Homo sapiens: one gene and its partner. The protein of the gene in region 1 interacts with the protein of each later gene in a pairwise test. Each region holds a gene or a part of one and is shown in the gene's direction. Other genes may lie near its edges.

Evidence for each region. The genes of interacting proteins can lie anywhere in the genome.
Region 2: the proteins of AHI1 (region 1) and NPHP1 interact in binary tests that used the Homo sapiens proteins (3 or more experiments, as listed by UniProt).

What each region holds. Positions count from the first base shown.
Region 1 is NC_000006.12:135,494,728-135,502,575, reverse strand, and holds the start of AHI1 (jouberin), read left to right. Parts: upstream 1-4,835; 5' UTR 4,836-4,993; intron 4,994-5,326; 5' UTR 5,327-5,388; intron 5,389-6,677; 5' UTR 6,678-6,762; intron 6,763-6,866; exon of another isoform or gene 6,867-7,037; intron 7,038-7,848. UniProt on the Homo sapiens protein: Involved in vesicle trafficking and required for ciliogenesis, formation of primary non-motile cilium, and recruitment of RAB8A to the basal body of primary cilium.
Region 2 is NC_000002.12:110,166,990-110,174,014, reverse strand, and holds part of NPHP1 (nephrocystin-1), read left to right. Parts: intron 1-4,016; coding exon 4,017-4,209; intron 4,210-5,461; coding exon 5,462-5,563; intron 5,564-7,025. UniProt on the Homo sapiens protein: Together with BCAR1 it may play a role in the control of epithelial cell polarity. Involved in the organization of apical junctions in kidney cells together with NPHP4 and RPGRIP1L/NPHP8. Does not seem to be strictly required for ciliogenesis.

The sequences.
Region 1 (7,848 bases):
ATTGTGAGAATATAAATTTCTGTGGTACTTTGTTATGGCTGCCCCAGCAAACTAATACAAGCAAACTAATACAGAAAACTAATACAAGCAGTAAAGCCAACATCTGTTCTGATTGGTAAATGCACATCCTGTAAGGGATTTAAATATTTTGCATATCAGTCACATTTAGGCATTATATTATTCAAGAAATTCACTATTCATTATGTATTAAATGTGTCGAATACCCTAAATCTATTTTATTCCTAAACGGTTCAATTTATATACATACATATATATATACACACACACACACACATACACATATATGTGTATATATATTTATACATATATGTGTGTATATATACATATATGTGTGTATATATATACATATATGTGGATATATATTTATACATATATGTGTGTATATATGTTTATACATATATGTGTGTGTATATATATATATATACACACAATTTTTTTCATGGATACTCAGCCAATTTTTAGAATTATTACCATACTACCACTCTTAATTGTTTGCCTCTCCTAGGATAGCGGAGTGCCCTTGGTCTTGCACTCTCGACTAATGAGAGCTAAAGCAACATATCTGCTTTATTCAGTTTGAATGGGGCTCATTAATATGTTTAGTATATACTCAACTGCCTGCTGAACATCCCACTCCATACATCCCATTGCAACTAAACATCTTTTCCTCCATGCTTGCTCTTCCTGATTTTTTGTCGTTAACTGATTAGCCATTCTCCACCCAGTTACCTGAGCCAGAAACCTCGGCACCTTTCAAACTTCTTTTATAGTTTTAAAATAATTATAAACTTACAGAAAAATTGCAAGAATAGTATAAAGAACTTCTGCTTTCGCCCAAATTCCCTGTTAACATTTGCTTTATCATTTTCTTTATGTATATTATTTATGTTTATATTTATTTACAGTATTTATGTATACTTTTTTCCTGAACCATTTGAATAGGTTGCAGATATGAAGCCTCATCACCTTTAATACTTCAATATGTATTTTCTAAAACCAAAAATATCTATGTCACTATAGTCATCAAAATCAGGAAATTAATATTGTTAAAATACTACCATCTAATCCAGAGACCCCATTCAAATTGTTAGTTGTCCCAATAATATCCTTATAGCAAAAGGATTCAATTCAGAATCATGTATTCCACTTAATTGTCATGTATCTTAATTCTCCTTCAATCTAAAAACGTTCTTTAGTTGTTCCTTTGTCTTTCATGACCTTGATCTTTGAAGAGTACAGGTCTATTATTTTGTAGAATGTCCCTCAATTTGGGACATTTGGGTTGTCTGATTTTTTCCTCACGATTGATTCGGATTACACATTTTTGGCAGGAATGTCACAGAAGTGTATTCTAAGTGCCTCTAACCAGGACATACACGATGCTGATTTGTCTCATGACTGCTGATGGTAACTTCGCTCACCAGTGCCAGATTTCTACACTGTCAAGTTTTCTAATTTTTCTCTGTGTAATTAATAAGTATTTGCTGGAGAGATACTTTGAGACTATATAAATATTATATGTCTCTTAATACTCTCACCCTCTAGTTTTAGCATACACTGATGATTCTAGTCTGAATCAACTGTTACTATCATGACTGCCAAATAATGATGTTTCTACATATAACACTGTCTACATTCATTACATTTAGTTGGCATTTTTATGTAAGGCAGAGCTTTTCTTTATCCTGATTTTTCAAAAAAATCATTTATTCATTTTAGTATGGGCTCAAATATTCCTATTTTATTTAGCGGACTATAATCCATTAACATTATATTGGTGCTCAGATTGACCCAGATGTGGCCAGTGGTGGCTCCTTCAAGCTGGCTTCTGTGACCTTTTGATATGTTTCTTCATTCTGTATTAACTTCCTTAACTTCTGGTGCAACAAGAATTTTCCAGGCTCCTGTTCTAAAATCAACCATTTCTCCAAGGGACCCAGTTACTTTTAGTGAATAATACTGTTCAGAAACCAAGATCTAGGCACATGTGCTCATTGCTTCTAGTATACCATTACTCTGAAACCCTTTCAGCAGATAGAGCTAGGAAGAGCATAATAGATAGATACGCACACACATACAGACATACTTTCCTCTATATTTATTTTTACATATGTTTATGTATATATTGAAAACTATGAGTTGACACTGACATATTCAATTCCAATTCAACATCACCACAAAGGTCACTGTGGAATTCTTCCTCTCTCAATTTGTAACGTCCTTCTCTGTCAGTGAGAAACCTGGCTCCCATTAGACCCAACATATTTATTTCCTCACTCCCCTTTCATGCTTGCCACCTCTTTACTTGCCAAGGGGAAGGCAAAACAGCTGGTCATCGTTTTTTATTATTTCTTATCATTCACTCTTCCATCCAATCAATCACTAAGTCCTGACATTTTTACCTCCTAAAAATTTCTCAAATTGGTCCATTTCTCTCCATTCTGATTTTTCTTAGCCTTGACCATGCCACCTTTGTCTCTTACATGGCTTACAGCAACGGCATCTTAAATGGTATTCCCAGATCTAGATTTGCTTCCTTCCTGTCTGTTCTCCACCCTGCAGCCAGAGTTATCTTTATGATATTAAAATTTGAAAATTTCACTCCATAAAATTCTATAGTGGTATTCCACTGACCAATACTGTCTGGGTCTCTTCATAGCTTGTTTAACTCTCTTGTTTTGTCTCCTCCAAAAGCCCCTAGTCTCATTCTCTACCTTTTAGTTAGCCAACTTGAACTTTTTTTTTTTTTCTTCCAGTTCTTGTATTATACCAAACTTTCTTGTAGTGAACACTATACGCCACCTTCTTCTACCTGGAAACCCTTCCTAACCTGGACAACTCTACACATTATTTTGGTCTTTACTTAAATGTCACTTCTGCTATGAAATATTCCCTGACCTCCCCCACCCCACTGCACCTCTGCATGCTACTGTAAATGGAGAAGCAAGAGATGATAACAGGGTTACACATCCGCTAGTCTGGGGATTGTATTCTGAAACTAACACCCTACTAAGAATGAGCAGTCAGAGTTATAACTTCCCTTTGGAAAAGCAGGTACTTAAATGCAGTTGTGAGGACAGATGAAAAGTACATAAAACACCTACAATGCATACCTCCTAGAAGGAGCTCAATATATGTTATCCATTATTCATTCAACAAATGTTCATGAAATGCCAACTATTTCATAGACACTGTGGTAGATGCTGGGGATAGAGAAAATACAAAGTAAACTATGAAACTATAGAATGAGCATCCAAAGTCTAATATATAGAATGAGTATCCGAAGTCTAATAGGGAGTAGGAGTGTTTGAAGGAGTCAGTCAACCTGCTTAAGATTCAAAGGATGGACAACATTTGGCTGTGATGCAGGAGTGTAAAAGGAGGAATTTTCAGGAAGAGAGGACAATATGAGTAAGGACGGGGCGTGAAAGGCTATGGATTGTTTTTCATGGTACACATAATTCAATGTTGCATAAAACTGCATGGTACACATGATTCAATATTGCATAAAATTGGAACAAGAAGCTAACGAGAGATGAAACTAGTCAGGGAGATGGAGAATCTTGTATCCTAGGCAAAGTAATCATTTTCTCTTACAGATTGCCTTTCAAAAATTTTCAGCAGGAGAGTGCCATTATCCGATTTACATTTTTAGTCAGGTCATTCTGATAGCAGTGTGGAGAATTTAAGAGTCAAACTGGAGTCAGAGAACTGGTAAAGGGCCCATCTGAGGAAGTTAAAAAGAGAGAATGGATATGCTTTGGCATAAGATGCATTTAGGATACTCTACTGTTCTTACTAAAACACTGGGAGGATTGTGGTGGCTTACAGCAAGATAGAAATCTAGGAGAGTATGTTTAGAACGGAAAGTTGAACAGCTCAGTTCGGTACGCATTGGATTAGTAATCTTTCTCGTTGCTTCCTCACAGGATTTAGGGAAGCACAAGACATATAGTTTGTAAGGTGTGGCAATGTCAGTAAGAATGGAAAAGCTGGCCTCCATAAACTCTTACTGTACAAATGAAGCAACAGCTTACAGCGGGTGGCTGTAGGTACAGGAAATGGCCTGTATTCACGAGTGTATTCACGAGTCCACGAGTAGCGCATCTAGTATTTTTCCAGCCCTGGTGACTCAGAGCTGAAGATGGCGCCTGTGGCAGAAATCAGAAAAGTGGGAGGGAGCATTAGGTGTAGAAAAGGATGGCGTTTTAACTTTTGTTTTGTTTTTCACACACAGGGAGATAGCTCTAAAGGAACAGTGGATAATTTTTTCTTAAAATTTTGTCTGTAGTACAACTTCATTTTCCACGCCTTAAAACCATGTTTTCTTTTGTGGGCGCGATCGCGTGGGGAGTGACAAATCTGTTTCTTTGCCTCATTCATTCATTTTCTTATTCTGGGCGGCTTCCATGACAGCCTCCCCAGTTTTCCTTTGCCCAGTCAGTTTTTCCCTGCGCTAGCTACAATTCTAAGGCGAAAAGAGCATTTTCGGAGGTGAGGGCGGGGAAAACTCAAGACTCTGTAGGGGCACCCGCGCATTTCCGGGTCCCTTACCGCTCCGAGTGGAGGAGACTGTTCCCGCTCGCGTGGCCGGGGAGGCGGGAGCCCCCTAAGTTCCCTGAAGCTCGCGCCCGCCTGCGGCCTGAGGGCCCCCGGGCAGGCGCCGCACGGCCCCTCCTCCTGGAAGAAGGCGGTGGAGGCGCGGGGACGGGGCCGCGGTCTTCGCCTAGAGCGCGGGACGCATCGGTCGCCATGGGAACGGCGGCGTAGGCAGGCGCTGACGTCAGCAGGCGGCGCGCTGTCCGCACTGCGGCACAGAGCCGCGGCTTGCTTTCAGGACACGGGTCGCTGGCGGGTTAGGTGGCTGCGTGGCCGCCTCACTTCGCGCACGCGCCGCTAGGCTGGGGGAGTTGATTTGCACTGCTCCGGGTGTCGGCTCCGGCGGGACGGGCGGTTCTGCGTACCCCTCTCCGTGAGTACATCATGGGTGCGCTGGTGGCGGGAGCGCGGGCCGGGGTGCTCGGCCTGCCCGGCCCTCTCCTGGGCGGCGTGTCGGGGCTGCTGGAGTCCGAGAGCGCGGAGGCTGATAGCGTAGTGACCGACGAGCGTGGGCCGGGTGTCCCGGGGGAATGCGATTTCTGAGAGTCCTCACCGTACTTTTGCGCTTCTTTCACTGGTCTCCGTGTCCCCGGAGAGTTGAGCATGGTGCTCTGATAGAGAATTCAATCTTTGCCTTTCCTACTCCCGATTCTTATTTAAATGCTTTTAAATCAGATGTGTACTGAGTGTGTTTATTTCCTTTTAGAGTGTCAACCTGGGGCTGAATCTTCAACCTGTCAAAGCCTTCTTAATTATGTCTGAGAAAAGGTGATCAATTTGTTATATTTATAAGAGCCAAATTATATTAATAGGGTTGTTTCGAGATGCATAAAAATAGAACAAAAATGTAGACCATTTAAGAATCCTTATCAAAGGTTGTGCTGCGTTTAGCATTCCTGTAAAAACATCTATTGTGAAAATAAAGCTTTCCCCTTTCTTTTGAGAAAGAGATGCCAACGATTTTTTCACCTGTTGCATTAACAGTTGCTGTTACTGCTTGGGCGTTAGGAGGAAGATTGCTTCTTATGAGTACTCTGGGAAATTTTTTAAAGAATGCTTGAAAGAAATTCAAATACCAAAAGTGTTTTTAAACCATACCTAGAATCTTGTTTATGAGGAATAATATTTATGAAGTTAGAATCTTGTTTACTTATGAAGAATCTTGTTGATTTATTCATTGAATTTTGTATACAGGATTTTTGTTTGTCTTTTTTTCCCTTGCGATAACATTTGGTTAAGGAGCGAATTATCAAGCCTCTCAGTTTTTTCTCCCAATGATATTGAGCCACATATTGGCTGATAATCAGGTTGTCTGTAAAATAAAATGAGATGAAATGTAATCCATTTAATTTTCCTGTGTAATATCTCTTAGACGCTCCTGTGAAAGGGTTTGTGAGGGAGAAGTTGTAAAATAATGGAATATATAAGAATCAGAGGTGTCTTTTAAAGTCCTATCTGATTTTTTGCAGAGGTTACTAATCAAATATTAGCCGTTAATTCTATCATGTTTGCTGTAGTACATATTAAGATTTAGAGATGGCTGAGCGCAGTGGGTCACGCCTGTAATCCTAGCACTTTGGGAGGCTAAAGTGGGTGGATCACTTGAGGTCAGGAGTTCAGTATCAGCCTGGCCAATGTTGGTGAAACCCCATCTCTACTAAAAATACAAAAATTAGCTGGGTGTGATGGCCCACACCTGTAGTCCCAGCTACCAGGGAGGCTGAGGCAGGTGAATTGCTTGAACCCAGGAGGCGGAGGCAGCAGTGAGCTGAGATTGTGCCACTGCACTCCAACCTGGGCAACAGAGCGAGACTCTGTCTCCAAAAAAAAAAAATTAGAGATGATTTCTGTACTGTATTTGCTGTGTTATCATTACATAATATTAGTATTTATTAGTTTAGTTGTGTATTAAGCTGTTAATAGTAAATAAGTATATGATTTATATATTTTATTTGTAATTATTTACTTATTTTTAATACAATAATAATGGACATAAAGTAATTTTATTGCAATGTACTGATTACTTTGCTTTTTGGTATTTTCTCTTCTCCTTACAGTACTAAAATAGGTGCCATTTTAAATTCCCAGACAAGGAAAAACCAAGGATTAGAAATTAAGTAGCTTGCCCAAGGCCACACATCAGTAAGTGGTGACACTAGAGCTCAAGCCTGAGTCTTTTTTACTCGCTTTGCTTTTGCTTCTCTTCACTTCGCTTCTCTCTTCTTCTCCTCTCTTTTCTTTCATAGTGGCAGATACATAACTATAAGAGAGCATTGGCTTGGTCCTCCAAAGCTAGCAGTTTGGTGGGAGTTACAGAACATTTTACCAGGGTGAAAATTCAAGGTTGAGGTAGAGGGAGCTACAAAGATTAAGGCACCCTGGAAGCACAGAAGAGAAGTTCTTAAATGCCCTTCAAGGTGAGAATGCTCTCTAGAGAAGATATCATTTGCCTTTAAAGGATAGTGAGGAGTTTGTTAGAGAGACAAAGGAGGAAGCACATTTTTCAGGGGAGGGGATATGTGTGTAATGATACAAAAGCAAGAGAGAACTTGGCACACGTGAAGGCCTGCAGGTAGTTTCACATGTCTGGAACACAGTGGATGTGTGAAGGGGACATTTCATAAATGGCCTTGGACCTCACTGGTAAGGACTTGATATTTTTTTCAATGTGCGATTGGGAGCTAGTGAAGAATTTTAAGCGAAGAAACGACACCATCACATTTGAATTTTAGAAAATTACACTAGTTGCTGTGTAGATGATGATTTTTTTTTTAAGGGAAAGGTGATAGCGGCGTGGAAACAATCTTAAAACAAAAAGCATAATCCTTCCACAGTGTTTTTGTCCCTCAGAGTTACTGTCTCATGTCACTGCCTTTGGGGGTGATGGGAAGACAGTTGGAAGAATTCTGTAAAGAATTGTCTACATGTCCCTTCTACAGGTGTCACCTTCCATTCATTCCTTAGCCCCAGCCTGCTAAGTTTCTGCCCCTCTATAAACAGCTTTGACACACGTGACTTCCTACTTGCAGATTCAGTGGACTTTCTTCAAAACCTCCAGCCCCTTTTGATGCCACACAGTATATAGGCAACATCTCCTTTAAAACTTGGGTTTGCTTCTGTAATGCTTCTATCTCCCAGTTTTTCACCTATCTCCCTGATTTTACTTTATATTGTAGGCTCACAGGATTCTCATTGGCTTTTTATTTTCTTGGAACTATCATATTTATA
Region 2 (7,025 bases), on another chromosome or scaffold:
CAGATATTTAAGGCTAAAAGTAATTTACTATTTAAGAAAGGACATTTCATAATGATAAAAGAAAGGGTCGATTCAGTAGGAAAAAAAATCTTCCTAAATGAGTATACATTTAATAATATGGGTTCAAATGTATAAAGCAAAAGTTGCCAGAACTAAAACAGAGCTAGATAATTCACAATCCTTAACCACCGTGATCTAATTACATGTATAGTCAAGCCTTTCTTAGTGATAGGGATATGTTCTGAGAAATGAGTCATTAAGTGATTTCATCATTGTACAAACATCATAGAATGTACTTGCACAAACCTAGAAGGTGTAGGTTACCATACACTTGGGTTATATAGTTATAGTATAGCATGTTGCTCCTAGGCTACAAACCTGTACAGCATGTTACTGTGCTGAATACTGTACACAATTGTAACACAATGGTGTATTTGTGTATCTAAACATATCCAAAAATAGGAAATGTACAGTAAAAATATGGTATTATATGTATGGGGCCATCATTGTATATGTGGCCCATTGTTGACTGAAACATTGTTGTGCAGCACATGACTATATATGTGTAGAACACAGCACCTAAGTATGTATTATGTAAATACATATTCTTTTCAGTGCATCTGTAACATTAACCAAAATGAACCATATTGGACCATAAAGTAATTGTCACCAAATTTCAAGAGTTTGAAATTATGTAGAATATATATATATTTTCTTTGATGACTTGGAATGACATTAAAACCCAATGACAGAAAAATAATTAGAAATCACTGCATGTGGCCAGGTGCGGTGGCTCACGCCTGTGCTGAGGCGGGCGAATCACGAGGTCAAGAGATAGAGACCATCTGGCCAACATGGTGAAACCCCATCTCTACTAAAAATACAAAAATGAGCTGGGCATGGTGGTGCATGCCTGTAGTCCCAGCTACTCGGGAGTCGGAGGCAGGAGAATCGCTTGAACCCGGGAGGTGGAGATTGCAGTGAGCCAAGATCATACCACTGCACTCCAGCCTGGTGACAGAATGAGACACCGTCTCAAAAAAAAAAAAAAAGAAAAAGAAAAAGAAAAGAAATTACTACATGTTTGCAAATTGTCACACACTTCTATATAAACTGTGAGTCAAAGAAAATATAACAGTGGCAATTAGAAAATATTTGGAATGATAATAAAATGACTGGGTTGCAACCAGCATAGTGCTTAAAGGGAAAATTTCTATCTTTTGTTTGTTTGTTTTGGAGACAGGGTCTCCGTTACCCAGACTGGGTATAGTGGTGCAATCTTGGCTCACTGCAACGTCCACCTCCCAGGCTCTAGTGATCCTCTCCACCTCCGCCTCCCTGAGTAGCTGAGACTACAGGCGTGTGCCACTACGCTTGGCAAATTTTTTAAATTTTTTGTAGAGGCAGGGTCTCACTATATTGCTCAGGCTGGTCTTGAACTCATGGGCTTATGCAATCCTCCCACCTCAGCCTCCCAAAGTTCTGGGATTACAGGTGTGAGCCGCCACACCTGGCCAGAAATTTATATCTTTAAATGTATAGTTTGAAAAAAAAGTTGAAAATCAATTACTAAAACATCCAACTTTAGGGGCCAGAAAAAGGACAACAAACCCAAGGAGAGCAGGAAAGAAATAATAAAAATAAAAGCAGAAAACAGTGAACAATAAACAGACATACAGTAGGCAATATCAACAAAGCCAAACTGGTTTTTGGAAAATTAATTAAATGGATAAGCTGCTAGCATTACTGATCAAGAAAAGAGAGAGAGAAAAAAAATCAATACAGATTCCACAAGCATTAAAAAGATACTATGAAAAGACTATGAACAACTTGTGTGAATAAGTTTGAAATTTAGATAAAATTAGTTTCTTTAAAAAGAAAATGTACTAAAATTGACACAAGATGAACAGAAAATCTTAAAAGTTCTACTAAAATATTTACTAAAGAAGTTGAATCTGTAATTAAAAGCCTTTCCACAGATTAAACTCTCAGGTGGCTTTACTGGTGAATTTATTGTAAACATTTAAGAAAGAAATAGTGCCAATATTAAAAAATCATTCCAGAGAACAAAGAAGAAACACTTTCAAATCATTTTATAAGCTTTCAATAACACTGATATCAAAACATGACAAGAACACTAGAAGAAAATTGCAAGGCCCTCATGAACACATGCACAAACTCAGTATAAAATATTAGCAAGTAAAATCTAGAGGCATTTCAAAAGGGTAATACATCATGACCAAGTGGAATTTGTTCCAGAGTGTGAGGTTGGCTTAACATTAAAAAATCAATCATTGAAATTCACTACATTAATGAAGGGGAAAAACCGTTATCAAGTTCACATTATTTTCGGCAACATTTTAGAATAATTGACCCATATAAAATATGTGCAAAATATCTCCTAAAGAAGGAAAGAGACGCGTTGAAAATCAATATGACATTTTATGGATTTTTTAGTCTTGTGGTATAAAAATGGTTGTTACATCCCTGTTTATGTTTTAGATCATTGTGGTATAAGAGTGTCCTACCATTATTTTAAACAAAGTTCAGCTAATATTCCTTTTTATTCCAGAGAAAATCTTGTAGTTGACTAGTTTTATAGTTAATGATGTTCATTTGCATTAGTCTAAGTATTGTTTTCCCATTTTAAAGATAAGCTTCTCTCATGTAAGCTTTAGGAGGGCAAAGATCTTGGTTTTGTTCATTGTTATAGCCCAAGCACATAGTGTCTGTCACACAGTAGGTGCTCCCCAAAATTTAAACTTTGCTGAATGTTGAATGAGTAAATAAAATTCAGAAAGATTTAGTGACGTGCCCAAGCTAACATTATTTTGGCATTTCTCTCTTCCTCACCCTCAGATTCACCTCCTTTCTCTTCATCCCTATGCTGTTTTCTTAGTTCATAGTGTTGTCACTTCTCACTTTCAACAGCCACCCTCACCTTTAGCCTTTCTTCTAATCTGTTCCCCACATTATACCTTTGTCTCCTTTCTAAAGTGGGAATCATATCATGTCCTTCCCCTACTCATTTTTAGGGGCGACTTTAAAGGTAAAGCTCACCTGGGCTACATTCCGCGTACCTCTTTTCAGCCTCAACTCTCACTCATTTTCCTTAAGCCTTGCCCTACCATTCATGAGCTACTTGATGTTTCCTAATCTTAAATCTCCTTTCTCCTCTCCCTGCCCTTCCTTTCTACTCCCATTTTACCTGATTAATTCCATATCATCTCTCAAGACCTAATTATAGCCTTTTATGATTCCCATTCGTGCAACCTGGGTTAGGTGTCCCTCTTGTGTGATTGATTTCTTAGTATCCTGTGTATACCTCTACTCTAGTACCTATTGCACTATTTTATAATTCTCCATTTTCTAGATTGTCTCACTGCAAGCTCCTTGAGGATGGGGAATCATGTCTGGTTTACCTTTGTGTCCACTGTGTATCTCTCTGACACGGAACTTGACCTACAGCATCAGTGTCATCATCATAACTGACTTTTATGGAAAGCTTGCTATGGGCAAGCACTGTTCTAAACACTTTGCAAGTAGTAACTCATCTTAATCCTCATGACAATCTTAGAAGGCAGGTTCTATTATTATCTCCACTTTACCAATGAGAAATGGAGAGCTTAAAAGAAGCCTACTCAAGGTCACCCAGCAAAGAGGGAATAGAGCCAGAATTTAAATTTAGCAGAGCCTATGCTCTAAGTACTTCATAATAATGCTTCAACAGCATTTTCTGAATGGATGAATCCAAGACTTGAATTCGGAGTCTCCTGGCCTCAAGTCCAGTGATGCTCTGCCATCTCACATACATGACTCAGCTCCCTCTCCGCCTCAGTCTCTCCAGGCACACGGTCTTAGCTAGATGGTAGAAACTGTTCTTTGTATTTTCCCTTATTTCTTTTATTTGCCAGCTCCAAATATGGGATATTCATGTATATGTAGAAGTTACACTCATAGCTGGTCTGTTCTTGTATATTATTTCAAGTAGTCCTACTCAGAAACACTTTTTGTAGAGTTGGGGCACCTACTGAAGAAGAGGAAGAAAGTGAAAGTGAAGATAGTGAAGACAGTGGTGGGGAGGAAGAAGATGCAGAGGAGGAAGAGGAAGAGAAAGAGGAAAATGAATCTCACAAATGGTCAACCGGTGAAGAATACATCGCTGTTGGAGATTTTACTGCTCAGCAAGTTGGAGATCTTACATTTAAGGTAGGTAGAATAAGACTGAAACCTAACCTAAGGGTCGATGTCCATACCTAACAGAATAAGAAAACTCTGCCTGTACACCTGTATTACAGATTCTTAAAATGCAGTTTTATAACAATCTATTTAAATAAGTAATAATTACAATTTACAAGCAGTAGTAATATGAGATTGTGTTACTAAAGTTACCTCTTCTAAAGATTTTTGAAAGTAGCTTTAATGTTGAGAATTCCTAATTTAGGGGTAAAATTTTATAATTTGTTATTGAATGTCATGTATAAATTCATTCAAGTGAGTTAGGCAATGTCCATAGGTGGAGGTAGAAGGGAGCACTTCCTGCCATTTTGTAGCAGTCTTTCCTGTTAGCTTAGATATGAGAGGGGCTTACATCCATGCTTGGTTGGCCTGGGCATAAATAAGTGGCAGGTGGGACAGAACAATAAAGTTGTGATTTTTAAAGTTGTGATTTTGAGCCTGTGTTTTCTGCTAGAGAAATGAGCCAAAGAAATTTAAGTGAATATATGAATTTTAGTTCTTATATTAAACTTCAAAGTTTAGTAACTGATTAATAATAAAATACATAAGAATATTATGCAAATAATTATATGGTTTGATTTATAGATTTTTTTTTCAAATTCTCCTGGAAAATGGTATCAATATTAGACAATAATGTATATTTTAATTAAGTGTTTGCTTTTGTAGTGTCCTTAGTGGTGGAAATGCTTTTGTCTTCAAAGATGAATTTTATTTTTATAAATGAGTGAGTGTTATTCAAAACATATCTGGTGAATTAAGTGGGTAATTATATTCAGTAAATACTATTTTTGCTCAAAAATAGGGTTTAACTTTAATGGAATTGATATTCTTTGGGAATTTATATGCTGCTTCTGAAAGACACTTTTCCAGAGATATTAAAACATTCAAAAATATTTTACGCAGTAATTGAATTTTTGGAATAAGTATGGGGCCTTAAAAATGATTGTGAAAAATGGTTCCCATTTGCATAAATGGCTCAAGTGTATGTTAGGTAACCAAAAGGAATGATTCATTAAACTATGTCACATTTATGGTTTTAGGTGAGTTAGGCAGAATACATAGGGGTCGGGTGATAGGGAAGCTTTTGATAAACCTTAGGATAAATATTGGATTAAAAAAAGATTTTGCCTTTTTTTCAGCACATATTTTGAATCATTGGTATTGACATATACTCATGATTATTGAATTTTATTTAAAATGGTTTACTTTGTTTTGCTTTAAGAAAGGGGAAATTCTCCTTGTAATTGAAAAAAAACCTGATGGTTGGTGGATAGCTAAGGATGCCAAAGGAAATGAAGGTCTTGTTCCCAGAACCTACCTAGAGGTTAGTCTTGGTTTATGCCTTCCTTTTCTAAGACTTTTTTTTTTTTCGCTTTTAATAAAACATTTAGCTGTGTTCTTTTGTCAGTTGACTAGTGAATGACTTGAGATATAGAATTTGCTTTAATTTTGGAGGGACAGGACCTGGGAAAAACATTGTGTATTAATGGTCCTGGGGACCTGTGAAGTGCTCTTACGCATGTGAGCCCTGGAACGTGATCTCACAATGAGGGGATGCTTTGTGGATTAATGCTGATCATAACAAATAATAGGTGTCTATTGTTTATTGTAAAACATAACTGCAGTTAACTTTGTGTTAACTTCCACAAATATGTGATCCCCTTACTAAAATGTGAACATACTATACATGTGTGTTTGTAGCTTGTATTTTCTTATTTCATAAAATAACATGGTCATTTTCTGTGCCAAGATATATAGATTTCTGTCTGGATCAGCACTGTCCAGTAGAACTATGATGCAAACCACACATGTAATTTAAATTTTTCAGTAGCCACACTGAGATATCTTTTTGCTGATGCCACTTCTGACACCAAGTATGTGGTTTTTCTCTGACACCAAATATGTGTTATTACATCAGTTCTTCTACACCAACCGGTGTCAGCAATTCAATTCGATTCTGATGCTAATGCCTGGAGCTAGCACAGACCCCCACAGGTTAAAGGCTCAGTCCCACAAGATTGCTGCTCACTTCCGTTGCCAGTCACAAGTCCCAAGAGCCACCCATACTTCTGACTGACTGGCTATACATTCACGAGTTCCCATACCATCACCTCAGGGGTTCAGTAATTTACTAGAATGATTCACAGAACTCAGGAAAACACTTTCCTTGCATTTACCAGTTTATTATAAAGGATGCAACTCAGGAACAGCCATAGAGTGAGGTATTGGTTGGGGGTGGCTGGCATGCACTCTCTGGGCCTTCCACCTTCCCAGCACTTCGCTGTGTTCACCATCCTGGAAGTTCCTGGAACCCCATCATTTAGGGGTTTTTCTGAAGGTTTCATTAGCCATGTTTAACTAAATCATTAGCAATTGGTGATTAACTCAGTCTCCAGCTCCTCTCCCCTCTTTGAAGGTTGGAGGGTGGGGCTGAAAGTTCTAACCTCTAATACCTGGGTTGGTTTTTCTGGTAACCTGTCCCCTTCCTGAAGCTGTTTAGGTGCCCACCTAGAATTACCTCATTAACATAAACTCAGGAGTGACTGAAGGGGACTCTTGATGAGTAAGAAAACATACTCCTATCATTCAGGAAATTCCAAGGGTTTCAGGAGCTCTGTGCCAGGAATCAGTGACAAAGAACAAATACATGTTTTTCATTACACACATTTTTAAAAAGTAAAAAGAAACAGGTAGAATTATTTTTAATAATATATTTTATATTATCCAGTATATCAAAAATACTATTTTGACATATCAATATTTAAAAATATTGAGTTGTTTTGCTT